Linked DNA regions of Homo sapiens. The protein of the gene in region 1 purifies or fractionates together with the protein of each later gene. This does not show direct contact. Each region holds a gene or a part of one and is shown on either strand. Other genes may lie near its edges. The genes, in order: THBS3, FDXR and MTO1.

The links.
Region 2: the proteins of THBS3 (region 1) and FDXR purify together in Homo sapiens (affinity purification with mass spectrometry; 3 studies listed by BioGRID and IntAct, with this or other methods). This does not show direct contact.
Region 3: the proteins of THBS3 (region 1) and MTO1 purify together in Homo sapiens (affinity purification with mass spectrometry; 3 studies listed by BioGRID and IntAct, with this or other methods). This does not show direct contact.

What each region holds. Positions count from the first base shown.
Region 1 is NC_000001.11:155,206,525-155,210,124, forward strand, and holds the start of THBS3 (thrombospondin-3 isoform 1 precursor), read right to left. Parts: upstream 1,374-3,600; 5' UTR 1,353-1,373; coding exon 1,274-1,352; exon of another isoform or gene 697-1,273; coding exon of another isoform or gene 447-696; intron 291-446; exon of another isoform or gene 193-290; intron 33-192; exon of another isoform or gene 1-32. Other genes in the region: MTX1 (metaxin-1), read left to right, coding at 2,281-2,808. UniProt on the Homo sapiens protein: Adhesive glycoprotein that mediates cell-to-cell and cell-to-matrix interactions. Can bind to fibrinogen, fibronectin, laminin and type V collagen.
Region 2 is NC_000017.11:74,866,265-74,870,203, forward strand, and holds part of FDXR (NADPH:adrenodoxin oxidoreductase, mitochondrial isoform 1 precursor), read right to left. Parts: intron 2,490-3,939; exon of another isoform or gene 2,302-2,489; coding exon of another isoform or gene 2,281-2,301; intron 742-2,280; coding exon of another isoform or gene 613-741; coding exon 520-612; intron 305-519; coding exon 182-304; intron 1-181. UniProt on the Homo sapiens protein: Serves as the first electron transfer protein in all the mitochondrial P450 systems including cholesterol side chain cleavage in all steroidogenic tissues, steroid 11-beta hydroxylation in the adrenal cortex, 25-OH-vitamin D3-24 hydroxylation in the kidney, and sterol C-27 hydroxylation in the liver.
Region 3 is NC_000006.12:73,460,099-73,463,698, reverse strand, and holds the start of MTO1 (5-taurinomethyluridine-[tRNA] synthase subunit MTO1, mitochondrial), read right to left. Parts: upstream 1,963-3,600; 5' UTR 1,845-1,962; coding exon 1,628-1,844; intron 1-1,627. UniProt on the Homo sapiens protein: Component of the GTPBP3-MTO1 complex that catalyzes the 5-taurinomethyluridine (taum(5)U) modification at the 34th wobble position (U34) of mitochondrial tRNAs (mt-tRNAs), which plays a role in mt-tRNA decoding and mitochondrial translation.

The DNA.
Region 1 (3,600 bases):
CAACCCTTGGCTGGGCATGGTGGCTCGCACCTGTAATCCCAACACCTTGGGAGGTTGAGGCAGGTGGATCGCCTAAGGTCAGGAGTTCGAGACCAGCCTGGCCAACACGGTGAAACCCCGTGTCTACTAAAAATACAAAAACAACAACAAAAAAGAAAAAAAAACCACCTAGCCGGGCGTGGTGGCGGGCACCTGTAATCCCAGCTACTCAGGAGGCTGAGGCAGGAGACTCGCTTGAACCTGAGAGGTGGAGGTTGCAGTGAGCCGAGATCGCGCCATTGCACTCCAGCCTGGGCAACAAGAGTGAAACTCCATCTCAAAAAGACAAAACGAAAACAAAAAAAAACCTCAACCCTTGTTGCTCTCAGAGGACAGAGGCACTGTGCCTTCCTTTCCCCATTATTGCCTATTACTACCTTCCAGGAACCTGCAGGTTTGAGACTCACTTGGAAACACAGAAACAGCACCCCACAAATTTGAGATGCCCCCACCAGGTGGCGCAAAGGAGATGCTGTGCTGATCCCCCACAGGAGTGGCACCTGGTGTCCACAACGTAGAAATGGAAGGCAGCTTCTCTTTCCACTCCTGGGTTTGGCTCGTTCCACACCCTAGTTCCCCTCCTCCCATCCTAGGGGCGCAGCACACTCGCTCTGGATAAGAACAGCTGCCCACTGAGGACTCTAACCCTCCCACCATCTGGGCTATCTCCCACGGGAATGTAGGACCCAGCTCCTCTGCCTCCTGTGTCCTGGCCAATCTGTGGTTTTCCCTCCAGCCAGTAAAGAATCTATGCCTGTGTCATCTGCTCCAGCTACCTCTCCCACATCCATCGGCCCATCCCACCACCAGACCTCCGGGAGAGCCCAGGCTTCTTGGTCCCCACCCCCGCCCTGTCCTTGGGCAGCCAGGAGCCCAGGGGGACGAAGCCCAGGGACCTACAGTACGCCCACCTTCAGGCTGCTCTCCCAGACCCTAGGGTGCCTACAGATGCTCAGGAACCACCCCAGCCAGGCAGCCTGAGCATCCAGTTCCTGAGTCCTCTGCCCTGGCCTCATGCCTGACCCTGTCCTGTTCCAGCTCCCCCACTACTCTCCGGTGCCCACTCCTCTCCACCAGGCCATAATTTCACCAACTCTAGGCAGTCTTAAGTTTTCCTCTGGCTCAATTTCTGGACTCTTCCCCTCTCCCCTTGCCCACATGTTCTCTGCTACTTGGGCTGAGGGCAAATGGGGAAGAAGCAGAGAGCGGTCTAAGAGGATGGAGACAGGCTTACCCTGCAGATCCTGACTGGCAGATGTGAAAAAGCAAAGGAGGAGAAGAGCCAGGGCCCCCCGAAGTTCCTGCGTCTCCATGCCTCTCAGCCGGCTCACTACCCCTGGCAGGCAGGCAGCTGGGAGGGGAAAAGGCTAGGCGGAGAGAGCAGGAGCCGGGGGGCGGAGGGACAGAATTGGAGGGGGGGCCAGCAGGCGGGTGAGGGGGGGCTGAAACAAAGAGCTGCCAATCACCCTGGAGGCATCATCAGCTCTGGGAACCAGGGGCACTGGGAAAGAATCCTGGAGGCCTCCCTGCTTTCTACCTCTCCCTAATGATCCTCCCCCAGGTGCCTCCCTCTCCGCAGTCATCATTGTTGGGGGTCTCGGCACACAGCGCTACCGAATGCCACTGTTTTCTGGAAGCCACGATTGTGGAAGGCAAGAACCCCTGGCAGGGGCAGTGCTAGACAGTGGGCATTATTCCACAGCTGGCAGGAAAGGATGCCAAGGGAGTGGCCGCAACTAGCTTGCTATAGTGCCCAGGGATGCCCACATGGCATGAATTTTGCTGTTCTGGCGGAGCAAGTGCTCTTTATTAGGGTGGGGGGTCCCCTGACAAGTGCCTGTTTCTCCATTTTCCCTCATTCGTAGGAAAGCTTGGGAGTCTGGAAGCGTCTGACGGGAACTGAAGGGAGAATCTAAAGCAGTGGTCAGTGAGGTCAGAGTGAAGAAACCAAAAAAGAGGAAAGGGACACCAGGGACAGGCGCAGAAGACCAGGGGTACAGGCGAGGAGCCAAGGACCAGACTGTGGAACACTGTGGGTACTAGCGGACGGGCCGTGACCCGGATGAAGCAGAGGGGCGCCTGAGTTCCCGTCACCTAAGCGACAGCCTGCGAGCCTCTCTTCCCCTCCCCCACCCAAGCCCCAGCCCGGCCTCCGCTCCGGCCGCCGCCACCGCCCCTGTTTTGTTTCCATGGCGACAGGCGGCGCAGGGCCCGCTCCAAACATAACGCGCTGTGGAAAACATGCTGCTCGGGGGACCCCCCCGCAGTCCCCGCTCGGGGACGAGCCCCAAGGGGCCCTGGAGCAGTACAGGCCACGTGCAGTTTGGCAAGAGCCCCCAGACCTGGCCCAGGCGCACAAGACCCCGCTCTCCAGAGCCTGCCGCGCCTTCAGGGGTTCGGGGCTCCACTTGGACGAGGCGCCGTGACTCTCCGAGGCGCGCCGGGCCGACAGCGCTGTCCCGCTACGTGGGCCACCTCTGGATGGGCCGGCGGCCGCCCTCCCCCGAGGCCCGCGGCCCAGTCCCCCGCAGTTCAGCTGCCAGTCGGGCCAGAAGAAGCCTCGCCTCCCCGGGGATCTCCCCAGGCCCCCTGACCGCAACGATCGGAGGGGCGGTGGCGGGGGGCGGGCCCAGGCAGGGGAGGGCAGAAGCACACAAGGAAGTGTTTCCGGGACAGAGGGTGGGCAAGATGGCGGCGCCCATGGAGCTGTTCTGCTGGTCAGGGGGCTGGGGGCTGCCGTCAGTGGACCTGGACAGCCTGGCCGTGCTGGTGAGGGGTGGCGCCGGCGCCCTCTGCTGTGCCCTGATGACTGGGGAGGGGGCCGAACTAGCCAAGCATCCAAACCTTGCCAGGGCTACTCAGCACGGGCGCAGTGGGGGAAACTGAGGCAGTCAAAGAGCGTACGTGGCCGATATGGCCTCAGTGCCCTATGCTGTAGTTTTCTAGGCTTAATGCAGCAATGAAAAGACGCCTGGTTGGGAGTTCAGGTGATGGGTTCTAGTCCTTGCTCATCCATTCACTGGCTGTGTGACCTTGCGGAGATCCTTTCTCTTTGGGCATTTTTTTTCTCCATTCGGAGGTTTACTAGGCTGGACTGTCTCAGGGACCTACTCTAGCTTGGAATTCCTGCCTTCTCCTCAGCCCCCTTCTCCTCTTCCTCCTCACTTAACAGCATTTACTGAGGCTATTGTTTGTTAGACCAAACGACTCACAGCCAGGCTTTGTATAAAGAGCTTAGCAATCAGACTTCCTTTGCTTCATTTATTCATTGACTCCTTGCTTTAAAGAGGATCTATTAGATTTCTTCCAAATATTAAACATTGCCAGGCAAAGATGAATAAAATTTGGTTCCTCCCTTCGAGTTTACAGAAAGGCAGATAGGTAAGCAAATAAATATAATAAAATATTCACATATAAGTTAAAGTAGGAACAGACCACAGATACTGCCAAAGAGAAGGGCATTATCAGTGCTTCCAAGAAGAGGGATACTGGTTAGGAAAAGCTTCTGAGGATAGATGTTCACCAGGTAGATGGCAAGAGAGGAGATAGAGGAAAGGATTT
Region 2 (3,939 bases), on another chromosome or scaffold:
CGAGACCCACAGCCTTCAGCACCAGCACTGATAGGCCGGGCAGCCCCCCAGGCTCCCAGCGGCCTCCTTCCAGCTTCTCAGCAGCTTGCATCCTGGCCTCACCCCTGCTGCCTTCCACCCCGAGCCACCGGCCTCCTTCTGCAGCCCCTGCCTCCCCAAGCCAGGGCCTAGCTGCACTCACCAGCACCACAGCGTGGTAGGCCTCCTGCAGCTCCGGCACCGTCACGTCCCTGCCCACCTCCACGTTGCCCCAGAAGGCACAGCGGCCAGAATGGGCCGTCTGGGTAAATGTGTTGATGACATTCTGCCAGGTCCCCCGGGAATGGGAGGGGTTAGAGGGTAAGGCAGCTCCAGGGACCAAGTCTGCACCACCCTCACCACTCTGTGTCCCCAGGAGGGAAGCTGGGTGGCATGGGCACAGACGGCATGAAGTCCTGTCATCCAGCCAGGGAGCCTCCCTGCCCTCCTCATCTTGACCAAAGTCTCCAAACCCCAGCCTCCAGGCCCAGAGACACCCACCTTCACCTCGGGGTGATCAGGCGCCACACCAAAGCGCACCAGGCCAAAGGGCACAGGCTGTTTCTCGTAGATGTCCACGTGGGCCTGGGGGTGCTGCTGGGGAACAGGGTGGCAGCTGGTGGGGCCGAGAGAGAGAGGCTGGGACGCCCCCAGGTCCTCCCCTTCCCCAGACAGAGCAGGAGAGTTCAGGACCCTGGGCTGAGAACACAAGGCTTCCACCCTCTGCAAGGAAAAAGAGCACTCACTCCTTGGGTGGCTCGCGCCTGTCAGCCCAGCACTTTGGGAGGCTGAGGCAGGTGGATAACCTGAGGTCAGGAGTTCGAGACCAGCCTGACCAACATGGTGAAACCCTGTCTCTACTAAAAATACAAAGATTAGCTGAGCGTGGTGGTAGGCACCTGCAATCCCAGCTACTTGGGAGGCTGAGGCAGGAGAACCGCTTGAACCCAGGAGGCAGAGGTTGCAGTGAGCGAAGATCGCGCCATTGCACTCCAGCCTGGGTGACAGAGCAAGACTCTGTCTCAAAAAAAAAAAAAAAAAAAAAAAAAAAGACGACGACGGCCGGCCCTCAGAGATGGGGAGAAATGTGGCCAGCTGACAAGGCCGTGGCTTCCCCCGACTGGAATTATATCAGGGCGGCTTCTTTATCTTCTCAGGTCAAGCACAACCCACAGCCCTGGCCTCCAACCCTTCGACACTTGGGACCCTCAGGTCCCAGCCAGTCTGAGGACCTGAGGGCCACCCTCTGAATTCACAGGTGCCTTAGCTCTAGTGCCCAGGACCATGCTCTGGGGAAAGGGGAGCAGCAGGACAGGGAGGGGGCACGGCTGGGAATTCACGGGAAAGAGAGGTGGAAATGGGCCTGCTCCCACTCTTAGAAAGACAGTCTCAGGCACTGGTTCTGCATGACCGCCTTCCCAGGGCACCTTGAGAGGCCGTGTGAAAGGCACAGGGTCGGGGGTCCAGCAGGCAAGTCTGGTATGGCTCTGCCACCAACCAGCCACATGATCCCAGCAAGTCCCAGGGCCTCCCCAAGTCTCAGTCTCCCCCTCTGCACACTAGGATGGATGACAGCTCTCTCTCATGGCTGCTGGAAAGCACCAGGAGGTCAGGATGGTGAGACTCTGGGCCACAGGCCGGTTAGCAGTAAAGCAGTCAGGGGTCCCACAGCTGACACGCCCAGCCCCCCATCCTATCTTAGGTCCCCGCTATGACACCTCCAGCTTCACTGGGACTCAAGGCAAAGAAGCCCCTGCCCATCAGTCTCCCTACCCCCAACAAAGGCTCCCACCCACCTCTTCGCCTTTGCCCAAATCCCCCCTTCCCCTCCACTCCCCTGCCTGCACCCAAGTCCACCCTCCCCCACCTCCTGCCTCTCTCCATCCCAGGCCAGCCACAGGGGGCTACCCAAACCACCTCCCTCAAGCCCCACGATGTTGTACCCACAAAGCGCTCTGGGCTTGGAGTCAAACAGGTAGCCTTGGATGCCAGTCCCAGCTCTAGCACTAGCTGGCTCTGTGCACTGGGGAAAGTTTCTTCTCTGTCCAAAAGAAGAGCCCTGTGGTGTCCTGCTCAAGGTTAAATGAGTAATCAGGCAGCCCGGGGTGCAACCTACTCTGAGTGTTCAATCAAGAAGAGAGCTATCATTACTATTCTGTTGTTGTATGTCACTGCCTTGCTCAAAAATCTTCGCTGGGGCCCAGTGCCACAGCATAAAGTTCAAACTGCTCGGCCTAGAGGTCAACACCTCACCCAACCAACCTCTCTGTCCTTATCTTCCATTCTTTCCTGCGACAGATCCTTCACTCTGGGTCACGATGTCCTCTCCAGGGCCACCTCCGGAACGCTAAGTCTGCCGGATGTTCTTACCCCTTATCTCTCGTGGCTGACCTCATCTTCCAGGTTTCCTCCTTCCTTCCTTCCCTCCCTCCTGTCCCTCTAGCTGCTCCCCGCTAACAAGGACATTCTCTGAGGTTCTTCCGATTGGCCCCCCTCCCTCCTCCCTGAGGATTTAACCCACTCCCTCCTGCGACCCCAAATTCCCCTGAACTTGCTGATGACTTTCTACTCTCTCTCTCCTGCCCAGACATCTCCCCAAGCTCCAAACCTGAGACCCTTGGATGTCCCACCCCAGACATCTCAAATCCATCCAGTTTCAAGCCAAGTCCCCTTGCCCCAAACCGCTCCCCACTTCTGCTCCTGTTCCCTCGACCCCATCCACTCAGAGCCCAAGCTGGAACCTGGGGCTCCTCCCTGACCCCCGACCTGATCCCATCAATCCCCCATCCTCCCAGTCCTCTTCCTCACTACAACCCCAGCAGCTCCCCACTGCTATCTGGCCACCAGCCCTGCCTGGACCTACGCTGCAGGCAGAGGGGGCATCCTGAAGGAAAACAGCAGCCCGAAAACTCTCCAGTGAAGCCAACCATCTACAGCTGTGGGCACAAGAATCCTTCGGGGTGTTTAACATTGCTGACTCTTGGGCCCAGCCACAGAGTTTGATTAGGTCCAAGTTAGGCCCAGGAATGTGCATTTTGATAAGATGCCCCGGGAGACTCTGATCAGGGAAGAGGAGGCAGCTGTGGACACCTCCCAGCGAAACCTGCCTCCAGAGCCTGGTCAATGGCTTCCAAGCCCCCCAGGATCTGGGTCCTACCTACCTCTCAGCCTCGGCTCTCACCTCCTCACGCCTTACTGCACACAGGCACCTTCCAGAACTTGCCCTTTCCCCAGAGAGCCATTCTCTTCCTCTTTGTTCACGCAGTTCTCTGTGCCTGGGACACTCCTGCTATTGTCCCCCAACCTGACATCTACTGTCCTTCAGACTGCAATTGGGACATCTCTCCCTCCAGACTGGGCATGGACCCCCTCCCCGCACCCCAGTCTCTGTGCTTATAGCCGTCAGAGCCCTAAAATACCTTGTAAATTATCCACCTGTCCCCTCCACATTCGAATGTCAGGTCCTCGAGCACAGGGACCACGTCTGTCCTGTTCACCCCCATGTTCCCAGTAAAGCCTGCGCCCAGAACATGTTACGTCCAGTAAATGATTACTGAATGGATTAACATGGATGGCCTCACATGGAGCTGCCTTCGCTCAGATCCCAGTGCCATCCCTGCTCCACGGTGGAAGCTTGGACAACCTCACTTGGCCCTAGCATCCTTACCTGTGAAGCAAGAGGCACGACACCTGCTTTGCAGGTTGTCATGAGGATGCTACGAGATGCTGTGCTCAGTGCCTGACTCAAGCTAAGGGCCACTGTCCCAAACGTGCTGCATGTGGTCCTGTCTTAGGAGCACAGCCAGTAGCTTGGAGCTCCCTGTGGGCAAAGATCAGCCCAAGGATCAGAACAAGGATTGTACCTGGCCTGAGCCCCTCCCCATCCCATTCCACAAGGAAAGCATGTGCACGTGTCTGCCA
Region 3 (3,600 bases), on another chromosome or scaffold:
CTTTTAGGAAATCATATAGCCTCCTCTCCCCCACCCACAAAACCGCAGTTAATAGTATATATTTCTTCACAGTTATGAGCTGAATGGTTATTTTAAAGAAGAATTTCAGGAATAAATAAGTGATTTATTCACAACTTTTACAAAACAAGTAAATATTCTAATTACTGCTCGCTCCTAAGCAAAAGGAAGGAGGAAAGACAAAAGTATACATAATTTACAAGTTGATGTTTTAGCTAGTATCTATCATGATGCTACAGAACGGCCATCCAACCATTACCCATTAGAGCAAAAAAAGTACTGTCCAGTACTAAACACAAAATCCAGGGACGACAACCCAGAAGGAATATAGGATGCAAAAGGTAGCATGGCGCTGGGCACGGTGGCTCATGCCTGTAATCCCAGCATTTTGGGAGGCCGAGGCGGGCGGATCACAAGGTCAGGAGATCGAGACCATCCTGGCTAACATGGTGAAACCCCGACTCTACTAAAAATACAAAGAAAAAAAAAATTAGCCGGGCGTGGTGGTGGGTGCCTGTAATCCCAGCTACTCGGGAGGCTGAGGCAGGAGAATGGCATTAACCCGGAAGGCGGAGCTTGCAGTGAGCCGAGATGGCGCCACTGCACTTGAGCCTGTGTGACAGTGCAAGACTCTGTCTCAAAAGAAAAAAAAAAAAAAAAGGTAGCATGGTTCTTCCAAAAGGCATCACAAAATCTTGACAGAAACACAAAGATCAGGCTGGGCAGAGTACTGAGCACCTGCAATCCCAGCTACTGGTTAGGCAGAGGCAGGAAAAGTTCTTGAGTCCAGAAAGCGGAGCCTGTAATGTGCAACGATCGTGCCTATGAGTAGTCACTGCACTCCAGCCTGGGCAACATGGCGAGACCCTGTCTCTAAAAAAATGTTTTTAAATAAAAACACAAGAACCGTTTAATAAAGGATTTTTTTATTTTATTAATATTATCATTATTTTGAGACGGAGTTTTGCTCTTTTGCCCAGGCTGGAGTGAAGTGGCGCAATCTCGGCTCACTGCAACCTCTGCCCCCGGGTTCAAGCGATTCTCCTGCCTCAGACTCCCGAGTAGCTGGGATTATAGGCGCCCGCCACCATGCCCGGCTAATTTTTGTATTTTTAGTAGAGACGGGGTTTCGCCGTGTTGGCCAAGCTGGTCTCAAACTCCTGACCTCAGGTGATCCACCTGCCTTGGCATCCCAAAGTGCTGGGATTAAAGAAGTGAGCCACTGCACCTGGCCATAAACCATTGTTAATAATGTTAATTCACCCTTTATCTGGAGTAACATAGTAGAAGGTAAACGCAGCAATGAACTAAGAAGCTACCAGCGAGTAGTTGGTAGCTCCCTTTCCCAAGGCACTGACCCCGAACCCCAACCTCCTACAACGGACGACTGTCAGCAGCAGCATAATCTATGGTTCGCAGAATAGACTAATATAGAGTTCTGGCCTGGCCCGCCTGATCCTTGCGAGACACTGATCGAGGCTAAAACCACAGAAGGTAGGATTCTCACTAGCTTTGAGGAAAGGAAGAGGTCCCCCGCTTCAGACCGGGGGAGGCGGGAAGGAAGCAGCCTGCGTCCTACGCCAAGTTCCACAGCACCCGCGCTCCTCACCGATCGTGTCCACGCGGTGAGTGAGGAGCAGAGTCCGAGAGCCGCACCGAGCGGCGGCGGTGGCTGCCTCAGTCCCGGCATGTCCTCCACCAATGACTATCACGTCGAAGTGCGGAGTCCGGGGCGCCGCGCTGTCACTGCTCAACCGTGCCAACGGAAATTGCTGCTTGGTGAAGGAAACCGCGACCCAACGGCCACAGCCTCGGAAGTAGAACATGCTGGGAGAAAAATCTATCTGACTTTGAAGCTGACACGAGTGACGGTCAAAAAAACTTACGCAACAAGAGACAATCTGCAGGGCGCGGCCATCTTGCTTTAATATCACGGGGTAGGACGTCTACGTCCAGCGTCGCCGCTGATTGGCGGTTTGGAGCTACTTTCCTGGTGAGGGAGATGGGTGATCGCACGGAGGGCCGGTTGTGTATTTTCTTTCCTAGTTCGTGCGGGCTTTTTTTATTATTATTATTTTTTATTTTTATTTATTTATTTATTTATTTATTTATTTATTTATTTATTTATTTATTTATTTATTTATTTTGAGACAGAGTCTCGCTCTGTTGCCCAGGCTGGAATGCAGTGGCGCGATTTCGGCTCACTGCAAGCTCCCCCTCCCGGGTTCGCGCCATTCTCCTGCCTTAGCCTCCGAGTAGCTGGGGCTACAGGCGCCCGCCACTACGCCCGGCTAATTTTTTGTATTTTTAGTAGAGACTGGGTTTCACCGTATTAGCCAGGATGTTCTCGATTTCCTGACCTCGTGATCCGCCCGTGCGGGCTTTTTTTGATTTCCTGTGGTTCTGGGTTGGGAGCTCCTACTAAAGGTCATCTTTTGTACTTTCTTAGGCCCTGCAGTCCTTATCGCCAGGTGGCCACCTACGATCAATGAATTTGATCACTTTGCCTTATCAGATCTTTGTGATCTGACAATCTGATACACCGTCACCTTCTGTTTGTCTATAAAAACTAAGGGCTGAAAATAAGAATAGATTCGGGCCGGGCGCGGTGGCTCACGCCTGTATTCCCAGCACTCTGGGAGGCCGAAGCAGGTGGATCACAAGGTCAGGAGATGGAGACCATCCTGGTCAACATGGTGAAACCCCATCGCTACTAAAAAAAAAAAAAAAAAAAAAAAAAAAAAAAATTAGCCGGGAGTGGTGGCATGCACCTGTAATCCCAGCTACTCAGGAGACTGAGGCAGGAGAATCGCTTGAACCTGGGAGGCCGAGGTTGCAGTGAACCAAGATTGTGCCACTGCACTCCAGCCTGGGCGACAGAGCAAGACTCCGTCTCAAAAAAAAAAAAAGAAAAAGAAAAGAAAAAGAATAGATTCGAAAGGAGTTCAAATATATTTGTGGACTGAAAGATTCATGATGGTGCCTGGGCATGGTGGATCACGCCTGTAATCCTAGCACTTTGGAAGGCCGAAGGGGGCAGATTGCCTGAGCTCAGGAGTTCGAGACCAATCTGGGCAACATGGTGAAACCCCGTCTGTACTAAAATACAAAAAAAAAAATTAGCCAGGTGTGGTGGCATGCACCTGTAGTCCCAGCTACTTGGGCGGCTGAGGCAGGAGAATTGCTTGAACCCGTAGGCAGAGGTTGCAGTGAGCCGAGATCGTGCCACTGCACTCCAGCCTGGCGACAAGAGTGAGACTCTGTCTCAAAAAAAAAAAAAAGAGAGAGAGAGATTCATGATGGCTAATTGGTTAATTAGAAGAATCGGTTGGTTGGAGGTTAAATGTCCAGCCTTTTGGAATTCACAGCCTTTCTCAATTCACAGCCTTTCTCAGAAAGGCAACGTTTGACTGGAGAATAAAACAAGTGTGGTATTGCAGGATCTGGCCAGCAGCCCACAATGCAATGGGGCTCTTTCTTTGTTCCCAGGCGGATTGGCAGGTCGAGAAATAATAGACACACAGAAGATATTGAAAGCTGGGTCCAGGGGGGTCACTGCCTTCTGGTCCTGCAATGCTGCTA